Linked DNA regions of Homo sapiens. The main gene of each other region encodes a partner of the protein of the gene in region 2 in a complex. Each region holds a gene or a part of one and is shown on either strand. Other genes may lie near its edges. The genes, in order: AGT and DPP3.

The links.
Region 1: the proteins of DPP3 (region 2) and AGT are in contact, whole or in part, in a crystal structure (PDB 5E2Q), measured with the Homo sapiens proteins. Residues at the interface, in NP_005691.2 of Homo sapiens: Phe109, Glu316, Tyr318, Glu329, Phe381, Gly385, Ile386, Pro387, Ala388, Gly389, Ile390, Asn391, Ile392, Asn394, Arg399, Val412, Leu413, Val415, Ala416, Phe443, Val447, His450, His455, Glu507, Glu508, Asn545, Arg548, Leu552, Glu555, Phe556; in NP_001369746.2 of Homo sapiens: Asp25, Arg26, Val27, Tyr28, Ile29, His30, Pro31, Phe32.

Annotation. Positions count from the first base shown.
Region 1 is NC_000001.11:230,711,123-230,720,089, forward strand, and holds the start of AGT (angiotensinogen precursor), read right to left. Parts: upstream 3,001-8,967; 5' UTR 2,964-3,000; intron 1-2,963. UniProt on the Homo sapiens protein: Essential component of the renin-angiotensin system (RAS), a potent regulator of blood pressure, body fluid and electrolyte homeostasis.
Region 2 is NC_000011.10:66,475,547-66,485,412, reverse strand, and holds the start of DPP3 (dipeptidyl peptidase 3), read right to left. Parts: upstream 4,980-9,866; 5' UTR 4,948-4,979; intron 3,221-4,947; 5' UTR 3,213-3,220; coding exon 2,943-3,212; intron 241-2,942; coding exon 151-240; intron 1-150. Other genes in the region: PELI3 (E3 ubiquitin-protein ligase pellino homolog 3), read right to left, coding at 9,246-9,815. UniProt on the Homo sapiens protein: Cleaves and degrades bioactive peptides, including angiotensin, Leu-enkephalin and Met-enkephalin. Also cleaves Arg-Arg-beta-naphthylamide (in vitro).

The DNA.
Region 1 (8,967 bases), on a different chromosome or scaffold from region 2:
CTCAGAATGTGACCATTATTTGGAGACAGGATCTTTAAAGAGATGATTAAGTTAAAATGAGGCCATGAGGGTGAGCCCTGATCTAATATGACCTGTGTCCTTATGAGAAGAGGAGATGAGGACATGGACACACACAGAGGGAAGACCATGTGGGGACACAGAGGGAAGACCATGTGGGGACACAGAGAGAAGACGGCCATCTACAAGCCAAGGATAGAGGACCCAGAGGAAACCAACTCTGCTGATGGCTGGCTCCCAGGCTTCTAGCTTCCAGAACTGTGAGATAACACATTTCTGTTGTTAAACCCTCCCAGTCTGTGGTACTTATGGCAGCCCAAGCAGATTAAGACATGCTCCTGCCTGCAGCTGTAAGTTCTCTTCCTAGAGAAACAAGTGTGTGCCAATCAGTAGGTCTTTGTGGAGGCCTCCTAGACCCCTGAGATGCTCATTCGAGGGCCCTAGGGTGAGGGCTGGGGATGGTTTTGTCATCTCCCTGTGGTCCCAACATGCAGCCGGGATTGAGCACCACAGGCTCAGCCCAAAGTCCAAGTATTTCCCACGTGTCTCAACCCCAAAACCAGCTCTCAACCATCCCTGCATAGCGCTATCCCCTGCAGAGCCCCAAAGGCATGCATACCTAGCATGGCTTGCCCAATGATAGTTGGATTCCTTAGTCTGTGCTGGGACCACGTATAAAAAAAAAAAAAAAAAAATAGAAAATTCTCAGGTGACTCTGATATGTAAGCAGGGTTTAGAACCCCTGCCCTAGACACGGGTCCAGCACCACGTTCTCTCAAAGGCCTTGCAGCTGGGCTTCAGCCTCAGCTGCTACAAATGAAAGCTACCCTGAGACCCCCAGAAGAGGTTCTTGGGCTGGCCCTGCTAATTCATTTCATCTGACTCTTCTTGATTGAAGGGATGAACGTTTATTCTATTGATTCATTCAATTCTAACATTTTGTACCACATCTCACTCATTTCTTGTGGAGGGGGGTGTACTGCAATATCGTCACTTCTTGGCCTTTTCTGTCCCCCCAGGGCTAGGCCAGGCTTCCTTGGAGCTGTAGCGTGTCATCACTGACTCAAGGCCACCTTGATGCCTAGATTTTTCTGCTTCATCTAAGCATACCCAGTCATTCTTCTTACATTGGCAGCTGGCTTCCCTCACCCAGACCCGTAACCAGCACCTGCCCTCAACACGGTGCAGCTGCTGAAGTACCTGGTGTGTTTTGTTCTGCTTCAGTCATTCAAATGCCAAATTCTGACCTCAGCTACCATCTCACCCCACTCCCCATGCATTTGACTCCATCCGCTGTTCTCAGGAAGAGCCACATGACATGGAAAAATGGAACAGAAAACTCTCTCTGCTGCTTGCAGGCCTTTCTGTGCAGAGAAGCCTAAGCCACCAGTTCACACCTAATCTAGACAGTCACATCAAATCAGGTCAACAGGGGAAACCTGTGGGAACCGACTGCTGGGAAGTCCTGCCTGACAAGCGCCAACTGTTCGGGGTTTGGATGGCGCTGGTCGATGCAGCCCGCTCACTGTGCTGCTCCTGCTCAGGCAGCGTCTCCAGAGACGCAATTCCATGGGCCATTTTTGAGGCAGAGACTGTCGTTTGTTCTCAGTTGTGATCTGCGGCTGCTCCCTAGGCTGGTTCCAGGTCTGCACGCAGCCGCGTCCTGGGAGTAATGGTGCTCTGGGGTGGCGGGCCTGACACCCTCGCCCTGAGTGCCCCTCCGCCTTCTCCTCTCCTGCCCCTGCCTCTTGGCCAGCACCTGCCCCTTCTATGTCTCCCTACTTCTCCCGGGCTGAATGCTAAAGGTGAAGATGACGGCTCATGCTCCTGTGGTGCCTGCCATTTGCAGGGCACTGTTCTCATATCAACCCCTCTGACCTCACCATAGTCCTCACCTTCCCTGAGGTTTCCCTGATGCAGTATTTCACCCTGCAGCTTTCCCCACCACACCGGGCACTCTCAACTCTCTCATCCAGCTCCCCTTTTCCCTCCTTATAACCCTCTGTACCATGTAGTTATGCACTTATTCTGTCCAGCGTCTTTGTCTGTTTGCTCTGATGTGAATGTGAGCCCCGGAACAGGGTTCCCGCTGTTGTGTTTACTAATACAGCCCACATTCCTAGGATAGTCCCTGGGACCTACTGCATCCTGGAGAAGTAGTTAATGAATTGGTTCATGCTGTTTTGCAGAGGAACAGAGAGGTCCAGTGACTTGTTCAACGTCACACAGCTGGGAAGAGACAGAACTAGGACTCAGAACCAGGCCCCCTGACTCTGTCATCCACGAGCTGAAGCACCAATCTACGCTGCCCTCGAATAAAATTGGAATCTGCCTTTTAGCTTATCCCAAAGCTTAGAAAGCACTTTCATGTTATATTAGTTCTCTTCAGCTATACCAGAGCCCCTGAGACAGGGAGCCCAGGCATCGTTATTAGTTCCATTTTATAGGTGAGCAAATCGAGGTTCAGGGAGATGGTGACCAGCCTGATGACACACAGTCAGGCAGTCTGTCTCGAGGGAGGGGTAGGGTGACCACTCTGGGGATCCCAGCTGGAGACTGACCGAGCCCGGCCCTTCCCTCCAGCCCCAATTCCTGCACAAGCCCTGCTATTCCTCCTGATGGCAAGAGGACCCGGTGGACTCTTGGCCATGATGACTCTGTTCCTGTACCAGTCTGCTCCGTTCCTGAGGACCCTAACTTTTCTCAGCGGAAGCAGGAAGACCTGACCATCTTGTCCTATTGCTGAGGAGGAGCAGCTCCTCCTGTAAGACCCCAGGTGGGCACCGAGTGGGGGAAAGCCCGCGTCCGGATGACTGGTCTTATGAGAGGGGAGAGGTTTTTCAGTCATCACCGTGCCTCCTCCCGGCCTTTTCCTCCTAGCCCACAGCTCAGTTACATCTGAGAGAGACAAGACCGAGAAGGAGCTGAGGGGGCCCCCGGCTTACCTTCTGCTGTAGTACCCAGAACAACGGCAGCTTCTTCCCCCGGCCGGGTCACGATGCCCTATTTATAGCTGAGGGGTGGGGATGGAGCTGTTCCCAGGCTGCCTGTGCACAGGCTGGAGAGGAGGGTTACATCACTTGGCCAGACCACAGGCTGGCCAGAAGGACAGATGCCAGAAGCGACACTCACGCTGGGACCTCTTCCAGGAAGTCTTAGTGATCGATGCAGAGTTTCACTGCTGAACAGAGTGAGCCGGTGCAGGGTCGAGTTACACATTTACCGAAGTTTGCAGGAGTCGGGGCCAAGGTTCCCAGAAACGGGAGCATCTCCCTAGGTGTGTGACAGCCTGAGGCCAACCACCCAGGCCTTCTGACCCAGCCCCGGGAGATGTACCCCCAAGAGGCCACAGGGACATGCAGGCCGGAGGTGCAGAGGGCAGAGGGCAGGGGAGAGTCTTGCTTAGGCAACACGGGGGCCACTTCTGACCCTGCTGCCCGCTCATGGGATGTGTGACCTTCAGCTGCTCCAAAGAGCCTACCCTGTGCAAAGGCCTCTAATAGACACTGGGGAAAACACACAAGCAAGTGAAAAGTGCCTTCTGGAAGTTTCCAGTGTAGCTGGGGAGACTGTTAAACACCAACAATAGCACAGCCAGATTGAAAGACACAAACAAAATGCCTTCAGGATGCAGGCATTGAAAGATGTGCTGTTCTGTGTTTATGCTGTACAAATTGCAAATGGTAAGTTTCACATGACCAGTAAAAGGGTTATAATTCTTATTTTCCTATAGGTAAGACTTGCTTTTGTAGTCATTATAACAGGGCATGACAGAGACCTTGGTGAGAGTCGCCAGAAGCCAGTGATCACAAGTGACGCAGTGGGTGAGGCAGGTTGGGAGTGGTGATGTGTCCAGCCTTAAATACATGGTATTAGGGCACTGAAGGGACAGGAAGGAAGATCCTGCTTCAACACAAGCAGGTTCAAGGAGCCACGGCATATCCACGATGGCAGACATGAAATTACCCAGGAATGGAACATTTAACAACAAAGAGCAGGAAGAGATGGTGCCTGGATATGAGGCAGAAGCTGTACATTCACTGACTGAACAATCAACAAACACACAAATACCTCTTTTTTACCCATTACTCTAAATCTTCATTTAAAAAAATCATATCTCACATGGGCCTGTAAATTCTGAAATACATTTTTTTAATTACTTTGTTCCTATAGATAGGGACTCCTCAAAAATCACTTGTCTGGGGCCCCACAGCGACTTAGAGGTGGCTTTGTCTGAACAGAACATTCGGGCCAGGTACAGTGCCTCGCATCTGTAATTCAAACACTTTTTGAGGCCAGGAGATGGAGGTTACAGTGAGCTATGATTGCACCACTGCACTCGAGCCTGGGCTACAGAGTAAGACTCTGTCTCTAAATAAATAGACAATTTTAATTTAATTTTTTTAAAATAAGAGACCATTCAAAGTGCTCCTGCCTGCGAATGGGTTAGTTGGAACAGTAGAGACTGGGGTCCTAGGCCTGGCTGTGCCACTAACTAGTTGTTTGAGGATCAGCAAGTGGTTTAACTGCAGTAACAAGTCCACCTGGACACAAGGGGGAGGTAAGGATCTAGCACTGATTAAGCAACAACCTTGTGCCCAGTGTTTAAATATTTCGGCTCTTTAAAGCCTCACAATTTGTTTCATTCACTCACTATTCCTGGTGCTCAGCATATGTCAGGGAACAAAACAAAGATCCTGGTCTTTGGGAGAGTTTCCACTGTGCCTGGGCCTCCTGCCTCGGGCCCTTGGAATGATCACTCCATTCAACAGCAAAGATAATAAACAACTGATCAGGTAACATGCTGGAAAGTGGTGTAAAAGAAAATAAAATTTCAGGACCCTCTAAATTTGGCCTCTAAGCAAGCCAAACTTCTCTTAATAATGACACGTTACTGGGGAGAACATAAGAAAATAATTTTGGTTAGATTGGACCCAATAAAGAATATCTGCTTAAACTTGTTGCAAGATTGGTTAAAAGCCCTTAATCCATGCCCAAGGCTGACTATCAGCTGGGGGATCTTCTACGTAAGGCTTTAAAGCTCATTAAAATCAATCAGAAAATTGCTAGAGAATTTTATTGAGAATGTAAATTATTCCCATAAGGAGCAGCCATTCAAACTGACTGCAGACATTTGACCCAGCTCAGATTCAGGCCAGTTTTCTTCCCAGTAGGCACCTTCTGTGTTCATTCCATCAGTGGAAGTTTCTTATGTGTACATTCCATCAGTGGAAGTTAGGGACAGAGCTTATCTGTGGCTAAATGAAGACTGTTGAATGAAAAGCAGAGGTTCTACATAGAAACCAAATAAGCCATCTGATATGGTTTGGCTGTGTCCCCACCCAAATCTCCAATTGTAGCTCCCATAATTCCCATGTGTCATGGGAGGGACCCAGTGGGAGGTAATTGAATCATGAGGGTGGATCTTTCTGATGCTGTTCTTGTGATAGTGCATAAGTCTCATGAGATCTGATGGTTTTATAAAGGGGAGTTCCCCTGAACATGCTTTCTCTCTTTTGCCAGCCACCATGTAAGATGTGCTTTTGCTCCTCCTTCACCTTCCACCATGATTGTGAGGCCTCCCCAGCCACGTGGAACACATAAGTCCATTAAACCTCTTTTTCTTTATAAATTACCCAGTCTCTGGTATGTCTTTATTAGCAGCGTGAGAACAGATACCATCAGTCAGAATCGGATCCAGGAAACCAGCCACATATGGAGTCAGCAGAGCATGATGTATTAGTCAGGCAGGTGCTATTGGGATATGTAGGGAAAAAAAAGAGAGATCAGACTGTTACTGTGTCTATATAGAAAGGGAAGACATAAGAGACTCCATTTTGAAAAAGAGCTGTACTTTAAACAATTGCTTTGCTGAGATGTTGTTAATTTGTAGCTTTGCCCCAGCCACTTTGACACAGCCCTAGATCCCTTAAACCTTGATTTTATACAACACATGTTTTTGTGAGCTCCAGGTTGGGTCAAAGTGGCTGGGGCAAAGCTACAAATTAACAACATCTCAGCAAAGCAATTGTTTAAAGTATAGCTCTTTTTCAAAATGGAGTCTCTTATGTCTTCCCTTTCTATATAGACACAGTAACAGTCTGATCTCTCTTTCTTTTCCCTACAGGGATGATGACGTTTGGGATCAGTTCTACTCTGTGGTTTCTGAGATGAGACTTGGTCTAAACTAGAACTCCTACTTTCCAATCTCTTGACCACCCAGCTAGTCATGGGATGAACACATAAACTCCTCTCTCCAGCAAAACTAAACCAAACCAGGAAAGCAGATTATTTATTTATGTATATGATGCAATCAAACCTGGAACCAGCTGTATGAGGTAAGGAAAGAATGAAGGGTAAATACAGGAATGGGGTTTCCATTTTTTGCCTCTGAGCCAAAACTAATTGTTTCACAGGAGCCTTGTTCTCTGCTGGGATCAGAACTGCAACCCCACATCATGCCTTGGAAGAGGCATGTGAGCCCTGAACATCATTTACTGGAAAGCAGGAAGAGGGGTGGAGCCTACTGTCCTGCATCCCATGATGGATCCTTGAAGTTCCAAGTTTTCCTTGCATGACAAGGACACTTCCCAGCATTTCTGGTCCTCATTGCTGCCCATCTATATCATGGGGGCTGGAACCGGGCATTTGGAGCTCTCGATTTGTAAAATGGGCTCATTAGGGAAAAGTCCATTTCTTTCCAATAAAGAACACTCAAATACAAACAGAATTTTCTTAAGTTGGCTCACATGGGCTTTAGACTCCTGACAAATAAAACAAAATAGTCTGAGCTCCCCCATTTCACCCAGGAGAAATGGCTGTATTTTTGTGTGTTGTTTTAGAGTTGGGGTCTTGCTCTGTCCTCCAAACTGGAGTGCAGTGGCATGATCATGTCTCAAAGAATCCTCCTGCCTCAGTCTCCAGAGTAACTAGGACTACAGGTGCATGCTACCATATCTGGCTAATTTTTTTATTTTTATTTTTTGTAGAGATAGGGTCTTGCTATGTTGCCCAGGCTGATCTTGAACTACTGGTCTCAAGTGATCCTCCTACCTCAACTTCCCAAAGTGTTGGGATTACAGGCATAAGCCACCATTCTCAGCCTGTTCTTTCTTTTTTAATAATAATTTTTATTGTATTTATATAAGGTGTACAGCATGATATTTTGATATGAAGATAGTAAAATGATTATGGTAGTCAAGAAAATTAACATATCCATCATCTCACAGTTACTCATTTAGGTGGCAAGGACACGTAAAGTCTACTCTTTTAGCAAAAATCCCAAGTGCAATGTGACATTTTTAAGTATAGTCCTCATGTTGTACGCTGGATCTCTAGACTTGTTCATCGTATATATCTGCTGCTTTGTATCATTTGACCTACATCTCCTCCCTGCTCTCCTCCTCAACTCCTGGTAACCACTGTTGTATTCTCTATCTCTGTATATTCACTTTAAAAAAAAAAAAGATTCCACATATAAATGAGGTCATGCAGTATTTTCCTTTCTGTATCTGCCTTGTTTCATTTAGCATAATGTCTTCCAGTCATCCATGTTGTAGCAAGCGGCACAGTTCCACACCGCTTTTTTTTTTTTTTTTTTTGTGAGACAGGGTCTCACTTTGTCACCCAGGCTGGAGTGCAGTGGCACAATCATGGCTCACTGCAGTCTTGACCTCCCTGGCTTAAGTGATCCACCCACCTCTGCCTCCCTGGTAGTTGGGACTACAGATGCATGCCATGACACCTGGCCAACTTTTTTGTACTTTTTTGTAGAGACAGGGTTTCACCATGGTGCCCAGGCTGGTCTCAAACTCCTGAGCTCAAGTGATCTGCCCACCTCAGCCTCCCGGAGTGCTGGGATTAAGACATGAGCCACCATGCCTGGCCTTTATGCTTTTTTGAAGGCTGAATAGTATCCCATTGTGTGTATACAGTATGCCAAATCTTTATCTATTCATCTGTTGACAGACAGAAGTCGTTTCCATATCCTGGCTATTGTGAATAATGCTGCATTGAACTTGGGAGTGCAGATATTGTTACTAGGTGTTGACTTTATTTCCTTTGGTATATTCCCAGATGCCTGCTCCTCCTATTGAATCCTTTTAGACATCACCTGATACCTCGGGCAGTGCCCTATGGACTGCTGTTGATTCAGACATAGCTGTCCATGAGCTGGAGGAAAACGGTCATATAAGATAAAGTTCTGGGAAATTTTGTGATTGCAGCACATTTCTTTCTATTTTTTATTATTATTATTATCATTATGTTTTTTTTTTTTTTTTTTTGAGACGGAGTCTCGCTCTGTCGCCCAGGCTGGAGTGCAGTGGCGGGATCTCGGCTCACTGCAAGCTCCGCCTCCTGGGTTCACGCCATTCTCCTGTCTCAGCCTCCCTAGGAGCTGGGACTACAGGTGCCCGCCACCATGCCCAGCTAATTTTTTGTATTTTTAGTAGAGACGGGGTTTCACCGTGTTAGCCAGGGTGGTCTCGATCTCCTGACCTCGTGATCCGCCTGCCTCGGCCTCCCAAAGTGCCGGAATTACAGGCATGAGCCACCACACCTGGCTAATTGCAGCACATTTCAAAAGTTATAACCAAGCCAATGGCTTTTCTTGTCAACAGTTGCAGATTTATAAATAAGAAATGAGTCGTTTACCTCTATCAATGTCAACATTAGCTGACATAATTAGTGAATCCAGTTTCAGGTACTTATGAAAAATGGTGTTATCAAGCAAAAAGTGATTGCTGCCTGATGCACTAGAAGCCAGTGCTATGACTCTGGGTTTTTGACAAAAGAAAAGCTTTCTATTGCAACAGGGGTCAAGCTCAAACCTGTCTCCCTGAGATGGCTTTAAGGCAGGGCATAATTTTATTAGAAAAGGTTTAGGGGGTGGATATTGGGATTGTAGGTGATTAGTGAAAGGAAAGGGGAGGCCTAGAAAATCCTCAG
Region 2 (9,866 bases):
TGACACCCACAGTCATGCAGGGTGGAAGCGACAGGGTCCATGCTCTGCTCAGGGCTTCTGACACTCCAGTTGGGGCTCCTTCTACTGCATTTTCCATCTCTACCCCACCAGCCCCCCATCCCCACCTTCCCCAACCCTCCCTTGGCTCACCTTGGGCAAGTTGGGAACAAACTTGGTGTCACCAAAGGACTTGTAGTTGCCCATGTTGGAGTAAACACCCGCGGCATAGACCAGGAACGCCTGAGGGGGAGGCAGGCATCAGAGACCCAGGAAGCACAGCCTCCCTGACCCCAGCGACACCTCCTCCTGAGATGCGAATGCCCCAGCAGAGCCAGTGTGGGTGAGGCTGGGAAATGTGTGGGCAGGACCTAGGTCCTGGGAAGCCCCAGTCTGGCCCACACTCACTTCCACAGACCCATTTTCACACCCCCGTTGTCTGGCCTAACTGATCTTCTGGGCAGTTCCCAAACACACCCAAGCATTCGTCTGCCTTTTCCCTCCCCACCCCAGCACCCTCTCAGCCACCTGAAGCTACTGTGTCCTTTAAGGCCCAGTTCCAGCAGCACCTCCCTCTTTCTCCAGAGCCTGTCCTCAGCCTCTGACCTGTCAGGCAGCTGGCCTTGGAAGCATCACATGTTAGAGCCGGAGAGGCCTTAATCATCTGTCTATTCTATGGCTTCTGCTGGCCCCAGATCTTCCTCTGGTAACAAGACCTCAATCCTCCTTTTGTGGGTGGGAGGGTGGGGTGGGGGATCTCCCTTCCCCCAGCTCCAGGGGTGGGCATGTAACCTGGCTCAGTCAGTCTGAGAAACCACCATCCTTGGCTACAGGATGGACACAAGGCTCAAGCTGGCATAAGAGAGCTACCCAGGACATTTCCCATTGGCAAAGAGCCTCTGTACACCAGGGATCATCAGGCCTGGAACTCCTGGAGCTCCCCTCCAGGAGTAAGAAAAGCAAGCAAGCTGAGAGACGAAGACTGCATCCCAGTGGTAGCACTGAGTCCGAGTCCAGCCATGCCTGAAACTTCCTCTAGACCTGGACTTTTCAAGCATGTGACCCAACAATTCTCCTTTTCATGTAAGCCAATTTGAGCTGGGTTTCTGCCACTTGCAAACATATGAATTCCCCTAAATGGCCAGGCGTGGTGGCTCACACCTGTAATCCCAAGCACTCTGGGAGGCCGAGGCGGGCAGATCACGAGGTCAGGAGATTGAGACCATCCTGGCCAACATGGTGAAACCCCATCTCTACTAAAAATACAGAAATTAGCTGGGCGTGGTGGTGCATGCCTGTAATACCAGCTACTCAGGAGGCTGAGGCAGGAGAATCGCTTGAACCAGGGAGTTGGAGGTTGCAGTGAGCTGAGATTGTGCCACTGCACTCCGGCCTGGTGACAGAGCGAGACTCCGTCCCCCACAAAAAAAAAAAAGAATTTCCCTGAAAATAATAACGCTTGGGTTGCACCTTTCTGTTTATAAACATTTCCACGGATATTAGCTCTTTTAATGAGTAAGCCAAGGCCTCAAGATGGGAAGTGAATGCCCAAAGTTCAAAAGAGGTAGAATAAACAGTACATCAGCTCAGAGAGAAACAATCCAATCCCTTTATTTCACATATAGAAAAACAGGCCATATTCTTGTACATTCTTGGTGGGAATATAATGCAGTGAAGCTTTTTTAGAAGATGATTTAACAGAATCAGTCAATTGTAAATGTACAGAGCCTTTGACCCAGCAGTTCTTCTAGAAATAGATCCTCCTCACATGTGTGCACAAGTATGCTCACCATGGCACTGTTTGTAAGAAAAACGGGACAAGCTAAATGTCCAGTAATGAAGATTAAATTGATTATAGTGTACACTGCTGTGGAATGCTTTACAGTCAATAAAAAAGAATGAGGTACATTTAAATGTACCCCATTCTCCAAGTTCTTCAAGACATGGCATTCAATGGAAAAAGCAGGACACAAAGCAGGAAAAGAACATTATCTCATTTCTATAAAAAAGAAAATAAGGAACTGATTCACCATGCATATACACATAAATGTATGTAATACACAGATGGGATTGAAAAGGCTGTAACCAAGGCTGGGCACGATGGTTCACGCCTGTAATCCCAGCACTTTGGGAGGCTAAGGCAAGTGGATCACTTGAGGCCAGGAGTTCAAGACCAGACTGGGCAACATGGTGAAAACCCACCTGTACTAAAAATACAAAAATTAGCCCGGTGTGGTGGCACATACCTGTAGTTCCAGCTACTTGGGAGGCTGAGGCATGAGAAGTGCTTGAACCTGGGAGGTGGAGGTTTGCAGTGGGCCAACATTACGCCACTGCACTCCAGCCTGGGTGACAGAATGAGACTCTGTCACAAAAAAAAAATAAAAAATAAAAAAGAGAGAGAAAGAAAAGGCTGTATCAGCCTCAGTGGGTTACCTCTGAGGAGGGCACTGAGAATGAGTGATCTTTGTGTTTTCTTTTGTGTCTTTCTGCATTGCTGCAATGCACTAAGAATTTGTGTATTACTTGGCCAATACATCCAAAAACAAAAACCAAGGGACAGGCAGAACATTCTGCCCAGGGCCACACAGTGTGGTAGAGAAGAACTGGTCCTGAACTCAGACCTCCTGATACCTACTCTGGACTCCTTCTTCTGCCTTCCCTGAATCTCCACCACAGTTTCTTTTGTTATAATCACAGCAGCCATCATTTATCTTGAAGTCAGGCACTGTTCTAAGTGGGTCATCACAACACTAAGAGGTACAGACATCCCACATGCATATTTTACGGGTGAGAAGACTGAGGCTCCAGAGAGGGGAAGTGCCTGAATTTGTAACCTTTGGTCTAATCCTCCACCTACCCCTTGAAAGAGACAGACATTTGCATCCTGGTCTTTCACACCCAGAAGCCACTCAGGTAATGTGGGTTGGCCCAAGAGAACTGACCTGATACTCCTCCTCGGTAAGGCCTTCAGCCAGGGCATGTTGGCGCAGCTGGTCGGGGTCCTGGGCGCGGAAGAGGCGGCTGAGCAGAGCATAGATGTAGGGGGCCTCAGGGGAGGTCTGAAGCAGCACAGCCAGGCCTCCGTACCAGGCGGCACGGGACAGGTGGTAGGCATAGAGGCGCTCTGTGGGTGACAGCAGGCGGAAGGCCTCACGGCAGTCCAGGCTAGACACGCCGATGTCATTGGGCAGGATGTACTGGGTGTCCGCCATGGGCCCTGCTGAGAACCATCACTGTCATCACAGCTGTTGTTTACCCCATACCAATTGCATACCTGGCTCTGAACTCTTATGATCTCATTTAATCCTCCCAAAAGCCCATGTGGAAGGGAATACTATTGTACCCATTCACCAGATATGCTAACTGAGGCTTAGAGAAGGTGAGATGACTCACCCAAGGGGTCACAAAATACACTGGTGGACCATATTTGGTCTGTAGTCCCTAAACCTTAAAGATTGACTCTAAGGTCAGGCATGGTGGCTCACACCTGTAATCCCAGCACTTTGGGAGGCCGAGGTGTGTGGATCACCTGAGGTCAAGAGTTCAAGACCAGCCTGACCAACATGGTGAAACCTCCTTTCTACTAAAAATACAAAAATTAGCCAGGCTTGGTGCCAGGCACCTGTAATCTCAGCTACTGGGAAGGCTGAGGCAGGAGAATCACTTGAACCCAGGAGGTGGAGGCTGCAGTGAGCTGAGACCGCACCATTGCACTCCAGCCTGGGCAACAGAGTGAGACTCCACCTCAAAAAAAAAAAAATTGATTGACTCTAACTACCTAGTATTACAGATGGGGAAACTGAGGTTCAGAGAGGCTAAGAGCCTTGCCTAATCCCACAATGGAGACATCAGCAGCAGAGATCCTCATCTCTAGGCTCCCAGCCCAGGCCCCTCCCTGCTTCCTTGTTCAGTATTATTTTTTTAAGACGGAGTCTCACTTAGTTGCCCAGGCTGGAGTGCAGTGGCATGATCTTGACTCACTGCAACCTCCGCCTCCCGGGTTCAAGCGATTCTCCTGCCTCAGCCTCCAAAGTAGTTGGGACTACAGGCGTGCATCACCATGCCCAGCTAATTTTTTGTATTTTTGATAGAGACGGGGTCTCGCTATTTTGTCCAGGCTGGTCTCGAACTCCTGGCCTCAAGCGATCTGCTTGCCTTGGCCTCCCAAAGTGCTGGGATTACAGGCGTGAGCCACCGCGCCTGGCCTTTGTTCAGAATTCTTTACACTTTCCACTGTGCTCACAAGGATAAAGTGCCAGGCCGCCAGCTGGAAGGCTCAGCCTTTAGCCAGGACTCGGCCCCAGACTCCTAAAAGTCAAGTCCATTGCTTCACTTTTCTGTACCTCCGTTTCCTCCTCTATAAAAGAGAGAATAACCCCAATATTACCAGGTGGGTGCGCTAATCAGATGAAGTCGCCCTGGACGGAAAGTATCCACAGCAATAAATGATTTTGCTTGAAACTGTCCCATTCTCATCCCTCTAAATGCCTTTTCCTTGGCCCTCCATTCTCCTGCTCGCTCCCTGTGCTCCACCAGGGAAGCCACAGAAGTTCACAACCAGAAGAAAGCCCATTTTACAGATAGGGAAACTGAGGCTTGGAAAGGGCAACAATTTACTGAAGGTCTGACAGCCCCGTTGGAACCCGGGGATTCCCCAACCCGGGGCATTCTCCCCGCCACGCCCCGTCCCGGCTGGGACAGAGTGTCCAGCCTCCTCGCCCTGCCCCGGCCTCCAGAAGCCCCGCCCCAATAGCACAGCCTCGAGGTTCGGAAAGGGCTGTTAACTCTTTGCTCCCCGGAGCACTCCTTGGCCTCGAGGGCGGGGTGAATTTGGAGGGGGTACTGGAGAGTGGGCAGAAAGGGAACGATTTTGCGCTCAGTATGGATTCGCCTTGGTCCCCCGGGATGACACGCTTTGACCCCAAAAGCCCAGGCGCCGCGCCTCACCTGCAGCAGCTGCTCCGTTCGCAAACTCACTTCCTGCTTCCGGCTCCCCCATTCATTGGGGCTCTGCGAACCCCGCCCCCCTTGGCCAACTGCCTGGCCTCGGGGTCCGGATGGGCGTCAGTACCAGCCAATAGACGCGCCAAGACGAGCTTCTCGGCTCGCCCGCTCCCGCCCCCAGGCGCTACGGGGTGGCGCGCGGATTGGCCCTGCGGGCTCGGCCTTTTGTCAGCAGGCCGCACACGCGCCGGACCGGGTACCGCTGTGCCCGGCCTGGCCGCGGCCTAGTCCCGGCAGACGGGACTGACGAGGTCACCAAGCCCAGGCCGAGACGGCGCGGGTGTCAGGGACTTGGGAATCCCCCTCCCCCAGTCCCGATCCCGCTTTCCTTTGGGGTTTCACCTCAGAGGACCCGACAGCACTCTTGCAGGTGGGAACCTACACAATAGGAGTAATGTGGCTCCACCTTCCTCTCGGGACTCGGGACCTGGGGGTGGAGACTTGGAAGTTGCAAAGCTCTCGGTGCCGGGAATCGGGGCTACGGTTGAGTGGGATCGGGCCAGGGCTGAGGTGGTCCCACCCGTGTAGGGGCGCGGAGAAACGCCTCGACTGCTTCACTGTACCACCACCCACCCGCCACGGGCCTGGAAGGAGCCGCTAAACATTCCCGAGCCTCAGTTTCCTTAGCACAAACAGGCTGGTAGTTTCCTGGTGCTTGCCAGATGCCTGATGGATGAGAAAGCCTCCTGCGGCCCCGAAAGGGAGTCCAGAGCAGAGGCGGGCCCGCGGTCCACTTTTACAGGTCTGGACGGACTCACGGGACCACGGTCTGGGTGGGGCATGCGGAAGGGCCTAGGCCAAATGGGGAGTAGTGGTGAGGGCCCAGGGTCAGACTGGGGGGTGGAGTGAGGTTGTCTGGGAGTCTTGGCTTTATGAACCGGAAAACCAGGCTAATAATTGAATCCAATCCAAGGGATATTGTAAGTTGTGATGTGTTGACTGCAGTGCCGCTCCCTATAGTTGCGCAGGGTGAGGGGCGTTTGGGTACTGAAATCCCGCACGGTCTCCTTGCTACGCCCGTGTCTAGGCCAGACAGCCTCTGCTTACCATAGACACCAGTTTCTCATCCACAAAGGTGCCCAAGGCCCTGCTTGACACAACAGTGTTACAAGCTGTTAGCTTTGATGATTACTTGTTATATGGGGGAGTTCAACAAGTTGGTCGGTGTCCTTAGGAAAGTCACCCCTCTTCTTTCCTGTGCCTCCGTTTTCATTGTCTTTAAAATGGGTATAAAGTTGGCTGACAGGTGAAGTTGAAATGTGCACAGGTAAGGGAGGTAGTGCTGCCCACTGCCAGCAGGGGGCAGCTCAGGCAAGGAAAAGACCCCAGTGCTCTCAGGACCCCCCAACCAGCTACGTGATCACATTTTTATGATCACAGATAAGATGAGCATATACTGAGGTCCCTTGCTAGCAGTTTGGCATGGAGGACCTCATTTAATTCTTGCAAAAATCCTGAGGTATGATCACTTTACCCATTGTACAGATAGGGAAACTGAGGCTAAGAGGTTCGCCGACTCCTATAACACCACACAGTTCAGATATCCCTGGCCCCAACATAGAGATACACACACACAGTCACTCACATGGAGCAGTCTATCACTGGAGTCATAACTCCCCAGCCTTGGCTCTTCCCCATGGGAATGCAAAAGGGGTCGGTGAGGAGCAACAGTTACGAATCAACTGTGTTACAGGTGCTCTCTGTATATTCACAACCACCTGGCGAGGTAGTGACTGTTATCCCCTTTAGCACTGAGGAAACTGAGGCTCTAACAGCTGGCAAAGGCAGAGCTGGGACAAGACCAGGGCTCTGACCTCCTCCACCAATACCTCTGAATCCTCCCCAGCATCTACTGTGGTGCCCTTTGCTGGTCTTTCCTCCTAGGGTCTGAGGTTCCCCACTGGAAATGGGATCAGAATGTTCCCCTGCCTGGTTCCCAACAGGGTCAGAAGAGAGAACTTGGAAGAGTTGGATTTTGAGTGCTTTGTGTGTTGTGTGTATGTTGAGGGGAGAGAAGTTGGAATGCTCCCACACCTCCTGCAGCATCCCCACCCTCCCCTTCACCCCCACTGCAGCAGTGCCATGCTCTGGAAGCAAGAATCTGATCACACCCTCCTCCTTCTCTCATCACATTCGGGTGCCCTCTGTCTTCTCAATAACCCAGGTCTGATCTCCCTGGCCGCAACCAGCTGTGTGGCCTTGGTCAGGTCCATCCCTCCCCTTGGAATCTGTACTTCCCTAGGCTCTGTCATCTATTGGGGACGATGCCCAGGTCAGGCCTATACTCAGAGCCTTCTTCTCTTCATCTCCAGAACAGCCGTCTGCCTGTCTTCCTGGCTCGCTCCCTGCAGGAATGGTCTGGGGCAACCCCAGCAACACGCCCACCTGTGGCCAGGATGAATAGGAATCCAGTTCAGGCTTGGCTTCCATGGCAATCAAGGCCCACCAGGCCCCAGCAACCTTCCCTACCCCCCATTCCTTTTTGCTGCCCCCCTCCACACCAGGCATGTTCCCTGCCACACCATGCTGTTCCCCTCACCTGGGCTGCCCTCCCAACTCCTCTCTGCCTCTGGAGATGCTCTGCCATTCAAGACTTGGCTCAGGCTCCAGGTCCTCCCTGGGCCTTCTAGAGCCCCTGGTTCTCACTCCTCTGAACACTTCCAGCCTGGCTAATAGCCCACTGCATCCTGGCCTGGGGTACAGGTGGCCAGCACAGGTGTGGGGGCCAGCTTCCAACACAAGCACGGGTAGGTCCCTCTGCAGACCATGGGCTGCAAGAGGCCCGGCCTTGCCCACTGCAGGGGCCCTGCGCAGGGCTGGGCACGAAGCAGGTGGGTGTCCACCAATCTAGTATCCAAAACCCTGCTTGGTTCACCCCCACCTCTGTTGAAGGAAAGCAACACTGTGATGGAGAGGAGCAGCTGTGGATTCAAATCCTGGCTTGGCCACTTTCTAGTTGTGTGACTTGGTGCATCTGCCCTCATCTCCTCAGAGACAAAAATGGCAACACCTCCCTTCTTGGGTTACTATGAGGATTAAATAACAAAACCTCCAAGAAGCAGAGCCCGGTGTCTGGAGAGTGCTCAATGGACGTAGTTATTATTATCATCATCAGCACAGTGCGGGGCACATGGTGGGCATTCAGGGATGATGGCCCTTGTGTCACAGCCGACACTCTTGACCAGTGAGTCCTCTCTCCTCCCTTTGTTGACTCCTGACCGTCCACAAATGAGGTTCAGAATCCTCCATCCAGCATCTTCCCTGGTCACATGGTCCCAACCTTTTGCTCCACCCCCTTCTCTGTTCCCCCCGCAGTCCATGCTCCAGCCATCCTGACTCTGTCCCTGGATTTCTGGCTTACTGACACCTGAGCCTGTGCACAGGCCCTCCCTTCTGTATAGAGCACGCTTCCCATCTTGTGGACTTGCTTCCCATCTTGTGGACTCGGAGGGTTCCGAGCAGCCGTTGAGGCTGAGCTCCTATGACACCTCCTCCGTGAAGCCTCCCTCACTTTTCCATTACCAGTGAGGCCTGCCACAGCCTGATTTGTACTCTGATCCTGGCACGCATGAAGCCGTGTTGCCATTTGTTAACAGTCTGTCCTCCACTAGACTGTGAACTCCACCAGGGGGGGAACCAGGTCTGATTGCCTCTGTGTCCCCAGATACCACTTAGCACAGAGTCGAGCCCATAGTGGCTATCAGCAAGTGCTAGGCCCAGCCTGCCACCCACCCACCACTCACTTGGGGGCTGGAGGCATTGCACGCATGCGGGGCATGTGGGACTTGTGGGGGCAGCTGAGCAGCGAGGTTTATAGAGGAACCCAGGGCGGCAGCAGGAAGGATGAAGGATGAGTGTCTGAAACTGGGTTGGCAGGCTCAGGGCATAGCCAGCCTAAGCTGGGGGTCAAAGGCCCCTGGCCCCTTCACTCCCCCAGGGGCACACAGTGTCGGCGGCACGATGTGGGATGCCCCAGGAAGGGCAAGGCCATGGGGCTGGGCTTTCCTCCATCGACCCAGGACAGAGCTGGTGCTGAAGGCCCCATCAGCATGACTGGGGTGGAGATCTTGGGGACCTCCTTGGGGGGCCACAGTTGGGGGGAAGGGCACAGCCCATCCAACATGTCCATCTGGTGTGGCTGTGCCAGCAGGGAGTGTCCCACATGCAGAGCTCCCTCTGGGCTGCAGGAGGTGGGGACCTGGGTGGGCAGGTGGGCACAGCAGCAGGGGGCCCCAGGGAGCCTAATCCAGCGGGCCCTGGAAAATGAGGCGGACGCAGCCATGCTCGCCGGTAAGCCAGGCCCCGCAAAAGGGGCAGGCGGCATGGAAAGCATGGGTGCCGTGGGGCAGTGGTGTCTGGGCCCAGTAGCGGGCAGTCTTCTCAGAGCAGACGTGGCCGCAAGGTGCAAAGGCATGGCTAGGCGGCCCAGGGTCCAGGCAGAGGCCGGCCTCCTGGCCAAGCCATAGAGGCACATAAGGCCCCACAAGGCGGCAGAGAGGACATTCGCGCTCCTGGGGGCCCCGCTCCCGCCGGCAGCCCCAGCCGTGGTAGCCATGGACGTGCCCGCAGCGGACGTAGACCCAGGGCTGCTGTTTGTCGGGCGCTGTGCGGCCACGGGCTGGGCTGGGGAAGGCCAGAGTGCTGAGGCCCACGGGGCACTGGGGCCGCGCTGCATTTGCCTCCTGCCGCTGGGCCTCCAGTTGCTTCAGTGTGGGAGCCCGCAGCAGCCCCGCCGGTGTGCGCCACAGCAGTGTGGCCCCACACAGGTCGATGAGAGAGCCGTCCTGCAGCACGTTGGACTCGTTTTCCACCTGCCAGAGGCAGTAGAAGGGCCTTACTGCCCAAGAGGCCCCTGCTGAGCC